Homo sapiens: one gene and its partner. The protein of the gene in region 1 purifies or fractionates together with the protein of each later gene. This does not show direct contact. Each region holds a gene or a part of one and is shown in the gene's direction. Other genes may lie near its edges.

Evidence for each region. The genes of interacting proteins can lie anywhere in the genome.
Region 2: the proteins of SPANXN3 (region 1) and BTRC purify together in Homo sapiens (affinity purification with mass spectrometry; 4 studies listed by BioGRID and IntAct, with this or other methods). This does not show direct contact.

What each region holds. Positions count from the first base shown.
Region 1 is NC_000023.11:143,511,238-143,514,511, reverse strand, and holds part of SPANXN3 (sperm protein associated with the nucleus on the X chromosome N3), read left to right. Parts: intron 1-3,274.
Region 2 is NC_000010.11:101,535,620-101,539,273, forward strand, and holds part of BTRC (F-box/WD repeat-containing protein 1A), read left to right. Parts: intron 1-923; coding exon 924-1,034; intron 1,035-2,673; coding exon 2,674-2,752; intron 2,753-3,654. UniProt on the Homo sapiens protein: Substrate recognition component of a SCF (SKP1-CUL1-F-box protein) E3 ubiquitin-protein ligase complex which mediates the ubiquitination and subsequent proteasomal degradation of target proteins. Recognizes and binds to phosphorylated target proteins.

The sequences.
Region 1 (3,274 bases):
TTGTGTGTTGGAAAGGAGGTGGTTTGATAGCTTCCTGAGGGGAAGTTTGAGTGCAAAGGGAACATGCCTTAGTAATATATTTCAGATTGGCAGCCATGGCAGAAGAATGTATATAATTTTCTAAAAGCTGGAGTAGGGGCAGTAAGCAGCATGGAAATGGTTGTGCACATATGAAAGTACAGAAGGTTTTTTAAACTTGGACAAGACACTTTATCACTGAGATCAAACAATTTTTTCCTGAATGGCACCAGCCCGGGCAAGTGGGGTTCATTCCTTCTGGGTATATACAGGAAAAAATGAGCAATAACGATGGGGTTTTAAGGGCTGCCTGCCAGGCTGCCAAATTTGTTGAAAGGTTTCTCTCGGTTATGGCATCTTTAGACTTTCGGCACCCCTTGCAATGGATAATGGTGGCCTTTGGTGGTAGTTTATCCACCCCCAGCAGCTTATGTATAAGTTTGCCATTTCTTATGGGAGTTCCTTTTGTAGTTAGGAAACCCTGTTCCTGCCAGATGAAGGCATGAGACTGTAGGACATGGTATGCATATTTGGAATGGGTGTAAATGTTGACCCTCTTTCCCTTTGCTAGGGTGAGGGCCCTGGTTAGGGCAACTAGCTTAGGCTGTTGAGAGGTAGCATGGGGTGGCAGAGCATTGGATTCTAGGAGTTTATTTTCAGCAATGATGGAATAGCCAGCTGCTGGACATGGCTCCCTAAAAGAGCTTCCATTAACTAACCGTGTATGTGTTCCCTGCAAAGGGGCATGTGAAATGTGTTGGAAGGAGGAGGAGAGGGAGTCTAAGAGGTCCAGACAGGAGTGAGAGAGCCTAGAATCGGAAGTGTTTACAGGGAGGAGGGTGGCTGGGTTGAGAGTTTTATATCTCTGGAAGGGGATTAGAGGGCTACCTAGGAATAAGGCATGTACCTGTTATAAGCAGGATGGTAGGAGGGATAGAAGGGATTGATGGTTTATGAGGTCCTGTAGGTAATGGGAAGATGCAATAGTAATGTGTTGGTAAAGAGGGAGTTTCCGTGCCTCTAAGGCCAGCGATGTGGCCACAGCCAAGATTTTTAGTCAGAGTGACCAGCCTTGGTCACACAAAACAACAGAGTCCAGTTGTTTTGAGAGAAGTGCAGTGGCTTGTGTGGCGTTGCCGTATGTTTGGCAGAGTAGTCCAAGGGCAAGGCCCTGGTCAGAATGTACATACAAAGTAACGGGCTTGGTGAGGTTGGGCAGTCCCTGTGCCAGGGCCATTAAAAGGGCATTTTTAAGTTTTTAAGTGGGAGTTGATGGGGCAAGCTGGGTTTAGGGGTTTTAGGATGGGCCCATGTGAGGCCCTGTTTAGTGGCTTGGCCAGCAAGTCAAAATTGGGAACTGACAGCCAGAAGTAACCCACAAGGCCCGAGAAGGAGAGAAGGTACTTTTTTGTGTGAGGAAAGGGCATGTCCCAAATTAGCTCCTTTCATTGGGTTGGGATGGCTCGAGAATTAGGGGTTAGGACAAACCCAAGGTAAGTAACTTTGGTTTGGGCTACCTGAAATATTGTGGGCTAGGCCCAAACTTTGGTTTGGGCTACCTGAGATTTCCTCTATTATGGAGGAAGTTTAAAACCTAAGTGGTGTGTTGGATGGACAGGTTAAGGAAGGGGCTACAGAGAAGGAGTTTGACATGTTGCAGGAGGGTGCTAGCAGCAAGGGAAAGTTCACCTAGGTCCTTGATGAGGGCAAGTCTGAATAGGTGGGGGCTATCCTGGAACCCCTGTAAGAGTACAGTCCACTCTAGTTGGGTGCACATGTGAGTATTAGGACTTGACCAAGTTAAAGCAAAAAGACTTCTGTAAGCCGGATTTAAGGGAATGGTGAAATAGGCATCTTTCAGTTCCAATACAGAGGAGTGTGTAGTAGATTTAGGAATATGGGAGAGTAGAGCATATTGGTTGAGGACCACTAGATGTATTGGTACCACTGCCTGGTCAACAACTTGGAGATCCTGGACAAAGGGGTAAGTCCCGTCTGTCTTTTGGAAAGCCAGAATAGGGGTGTTCTGGGGAGAGTTAACAGGCTTGAGAATATGAGCTTGTTAAAGTTTACAAATAATAGGTTTGAGGCCCCTAAGCACGGCTGGATTAAGGGGATATTGAGACTGAAAAAAGAAAATGGAGGAGTTTTGAAAGGTTATTTTAACTGGGATGTGATGTGTGGCTATTGTGGGTTTAGAAACATTCCAAGCTTTAGAATTAACAGAAGGTAACAGGGTGGATAATGAGGATGAGTAGGGGGAGAGGGAAGCGTTTGGGTGTCGGAGTAAAATAAAAGGGGTAGAATTGTAGGAGCCGCATTGCATGGAGGCCTGGAATTTACTTAATATGTCCCACCCCAAGATAGGGGTAGGGGACTGAGGGATAACCAGGAAACAGTGGGTGAAGGGGGCTGTTGAATAGGTTGCATAATAAAGGACGAGTCTGTGCCTAGAGGGGATTTTATTGATTCTCACAATAGAGATCGAAGAACAGAAAAAGGGTCTAGAATATTCTGGTAAAACCGAGTAACTAGTTGTCGTATTGAGTATCCAATAGGAAAGACATGGACTTACTAGAGACTGACAGAATTACCCTGGGTTCCGAGGTGGTGATGGCAGTAGGGGTGGTGGACTCTAGGCCCCACCTGTCTTCAGGTACAGGTGGTGAAGCTAGATGAAGAGTTTCACTGAGCACAGTCTGACTTCCAGTGTTGCTTGATATCACAGATGGGGCAAGGCTTCCAGAGTGTCACGGGATTAGGCCAGGCTTTTGCTCAGTGTCCCTGTTGGATGCACTTATAACAGGCTCCTGGAGTTGACTGTTGCCAAGTTGAGGAATTCTGTATGCCTTGGGAACCCTGTTGAGTGGCAGCTATCAGCATTTGATATTTAGCCTGGCCCTTTTTTAGGTTTGGGTTTTTTAGTTCTTCCTCTCTAATCTTATAGACCTTAAAGGCCACTTTGATTAAGTCTCTTTGGAGGTTTGAGGGCCATCCTCCACTTTTTAAAGTTTTTTTTCAAATGTCTGGGGCTGACTGGGAGATAAAGTGTAAATGGAGGTAGATTTTGCCCTTAATGGTATTAGGGCTTAAGGTGGCATATTTAGTTGTGACCTTTGAAAAGGCGGGAGAGGAAAAGAGCAGGGGCGACTTTATTTATGCCAGCTAGAAGGCATGATATCATATGGCCTGGTTTCTGCCTGTCTACAGAAGTTGCCTGATAATTCCGATTGAGGTCAGTTCTGGGGACAGCTAG
Region 2 (3,654 bases), on another chromosome or scaffold:
CCAGGCAGAGAAGCAGCACAGCAAAGCCTTTTGTTGCCCTTCTTTTTAAATTTCTCCTGTCTACCGTTGAAAAGTGCTAATAAACAGCTAACAGCCTTTTCTTTGCCATTGTTTTTAAGAAATGAAAAGAAAGATTTGTTTCCTTACTAGAAATTATGTAATTTTTGTCTTAGCATTACATAATTGGCCAGAGAGTTACCTGTCTTTGAAATTATGAAGATTTCACAGTTGGAAGTCCTTTTTGGGGTTTTCCCTTCACAAAGATGAATGACATAGATATGATTATAATTTGGAAGATTTATCCATCCTCTCCCTTCAGTGAAGTATTAAAAGGATGAAAAGGCCATTAAAAAAGAGCTACTGTTTGTTATATCTAAGGAAATTATTCCTAGAAATCACTTGAATTGCTCTGAAAACGTACAGTTTTTATAATTAGTACACAAAAGTTCTTGAGAACTGACTTTGCATTTCTATTCTCTGAGAAGAGCTGTCCTGGACAGTGGTGAAAGAAGTGTCTGCCGTGGCAGAGGGGGAGGTGCTTTGTGAGAACAGGACATCACTGATAATCTGTATCTCTTTCAGTTTGGTGACTTCAGGAAACTGCTTTCTTAGCTTGGTCATTTCCTTCTCAGGCAACTGCGTGCATTGAATTCGTTTTTATGCCTGGAAGAACCTGTTTACAGAATTATGTAAAGCCCTGTGCTTTGAAAATACATTTTACATTTGAACTTAAACCTACATATTTCTGTGTGAGTTATATAGCAGAAAGGAAATAAATTACATTGAAAGCAGTACATATCTGTGTGGGTGGTGATTGATTTTATTTTATGAATTTTTAGAAGGCATATGAGGTGTATTGTTATAACATTCCAGGCTTAGAAAAGAATACGTGAAAATTCACCTGACTTAATTTTCTCTTCCAGATTATGGGACATAGAATGTGGTGCATGTTTACGAGTGTTAGAAGGCCATGAGGAATTGGTGCGTTGTATTCGATTTGATAACAAGAGGATAGTCAGTGGGGCCTATGATGGGTGAGTGTGCTAACAGAGTGTAAAAAAGAGAAAATCTACGTCTTAATCCTTCCTTATGTTTATGGTGTTAAACATAACCATTCCTTGTTTCTAAAAGCTTATAGATTTTACACAAAATATCTGATACCATATTTCTTTAATCCGTGTATTTACCTCTCCTTGGTTTAGTGTCCTGAAATATTCTTCCCATTCATTTTATTATACTTGTTTGCACATGGTTGTCATTCATATTTTGGTTATTTGGTTATGTATTTGACTGTTTTGCCCTGTAAAGCAAAGAACAAGAAAAACCCAGTGTTAACAGGCTACCCATGTAAAAGGGTAACCTGTTAACAAAACAGAAACACTAGAGGGCAGTATTTGGGGACTTAGTGTGGTAAGATCTTGAATTTTGATTTCTTGGGTTTTTTATCTCTTTGAGTAATTTTTAAGAGTACAGTTCTCTTGTCATCACTTGTCATCCTAGCATTTCATTTATGAGTTTAGTCATCTTTATTTTCTTCTAATTTCTAGTGGTTATGGAATCCATTAATTTTGTGAATGGACCCCATGTCCACCAATCCTAAACACAGAGTAAATTCAAACAAAAGTAGTCTGGGCACAATGGCTCATGCATTTAATCCCAGCACTTTGGGAGACCGAGACAGGTGGATCATTTGAGGTCAGTAGTTCGAGACCAGCCTGGCCAACATGGCAAAACCCAGTCTCTACTAAAAGTACAAAAATTAGCCAGGTGTGGTTGCGGGCGCCTGTAATCCCAGCTACTTAGGAGGCTGAGGCAGGAGAATTGCTTGAACCAGGGAGGCAGAGGTTGCAGTGAGCCAAGATTGCGCCACCACACTCCAGCCTGGGCAACAGAGCGAGACTCCGTCTCAAAAAAAGAAAAAAAAATAGTTATTCACTTAGGAAGAACTCTTATCATTTCTTTTTGTCAATCTGCCTGATTTTGGCAGCTTTTTAAATATCAGAAACTAACAACATTATTTTAGTTCATGAGTTAACTACACTGATACATTCATTAGCCAATGCAAGCAGCAGGAAGTGTAGACTGCTCACTTCTTCTGCTTTGGGACAGCCATCACTGTTACAACCTTGGGAAATTGTTCAGAGTGTGGTGACATGTTCCAGCTTGGTCAAGACAATATTTTCTTATTGTCCTGGCTTTGATCTGTACCCACCTGTCTTGGAATTTGTCTGCTATGTACCTTGAGGAAACATGGCCTATTAAAAGATTTTTGGAAGAGCTACACTTATCTTATTTAAATCAAAAGATGAGGGCTTGCTTATATAAACTCCATTGCTCTTACATGGACCCCAGTCCCTCAGTACATGTGACCTGGGCCACTCTTAGAAGTGCCCAGGAAGAGGATGCTTCACAGTTGTAGATTTCTAGGTCTGTGTAATATCATTAAAAGGTCTAATGTACAAGATCTCCTCTTGATCCCAAAGTATGGTATAACTTTACTGTTAACTGTCTTCAGTTTGGTTAAAGCTAGCCTGTTTCTCATTTGTAGGTTAATCACGTACATTTGAACTATACTCACCATCCATATTTATTGCCATGAATTTCTGCTATTCTTCCCTGCCTTCTCTTACATTTGCTTTTAACTAACATTTTTGTCCCCTTTTTGATCTTTAGAAAAATTAAAGTGTGGGATCTTGTGGCTGCTTTGGACCCCCGTGCTCCTGCAGGGACACTCTGTCTACGGACCCTTGTGGTAAGAGCCTTGCTGTTTAGAGAGCATTGGAGAGCAGGTGGGGGAAGAAATTAAACGTTGATGTGCTGTGGAATATGGATTTGAATTTAATAGTTACAACCTCACAAAACCTACAACTAAGTGGTAAGGCAACCAGTACATGACAATAAAATATGTTTATATAATTCCTTTCATCCAAAAATGCTTTAGAGACTATATATGGAGAGAAATGTGGCAGCTGTTTAACAGCTGCACAGCAACTCTACACAACAGTTTAGTGCAGGGAGTGAATAAGAATTCTGTATCCACCAGAAACAGCAGGGGGTACTAAGGGAGAGAGAATATAATTATTCAAATTGGAACCTGTCCAAAATCTGAGGACCTGTACACCTGTGCCTTCAAAAAGTGCCCTGGGGGCCGGGTGCGGTGGCTCATGCCTATTATCCCAGCACTTTGGGAGGTCAAGGCAGATGGATCACCTGAGATCAGGAGTTCAAGACCAGCTTGACCAACACGGTGAAACCCCATCTCTGCTAAAAATAAAAAAAAAATTAGCCAAGCATGGTGGCAGGTGCCTGTAATCCTAGCTACTCAGGAGGCTGAGGCAGGAGAATCACTTGAACCTGAGAGGCGGAGGTTGCAGTGAACCAAGATCATGCTTGCACTCCAGCCTGGGCAACAAGAGCGAAACTCTGTCTTAAAAAAAAAAAAAAACTGCCCTGGGAATCTGCATGAATCCCCCTGGTCAACCCCTTAGTTCTGCAGCCTATTCATGAGGTAGTGCCTCCAGCAACTTGAGCCCATCTTTTTTGTTCCCCATATACCCCCTTTTGACATTTGGGGAAAAAAGTGATTCAAAAGGAGGAATGCACTAAATTATTTATCATGTTGTTAGCCAAGGGCCCAGATTGATAAATGCTGCT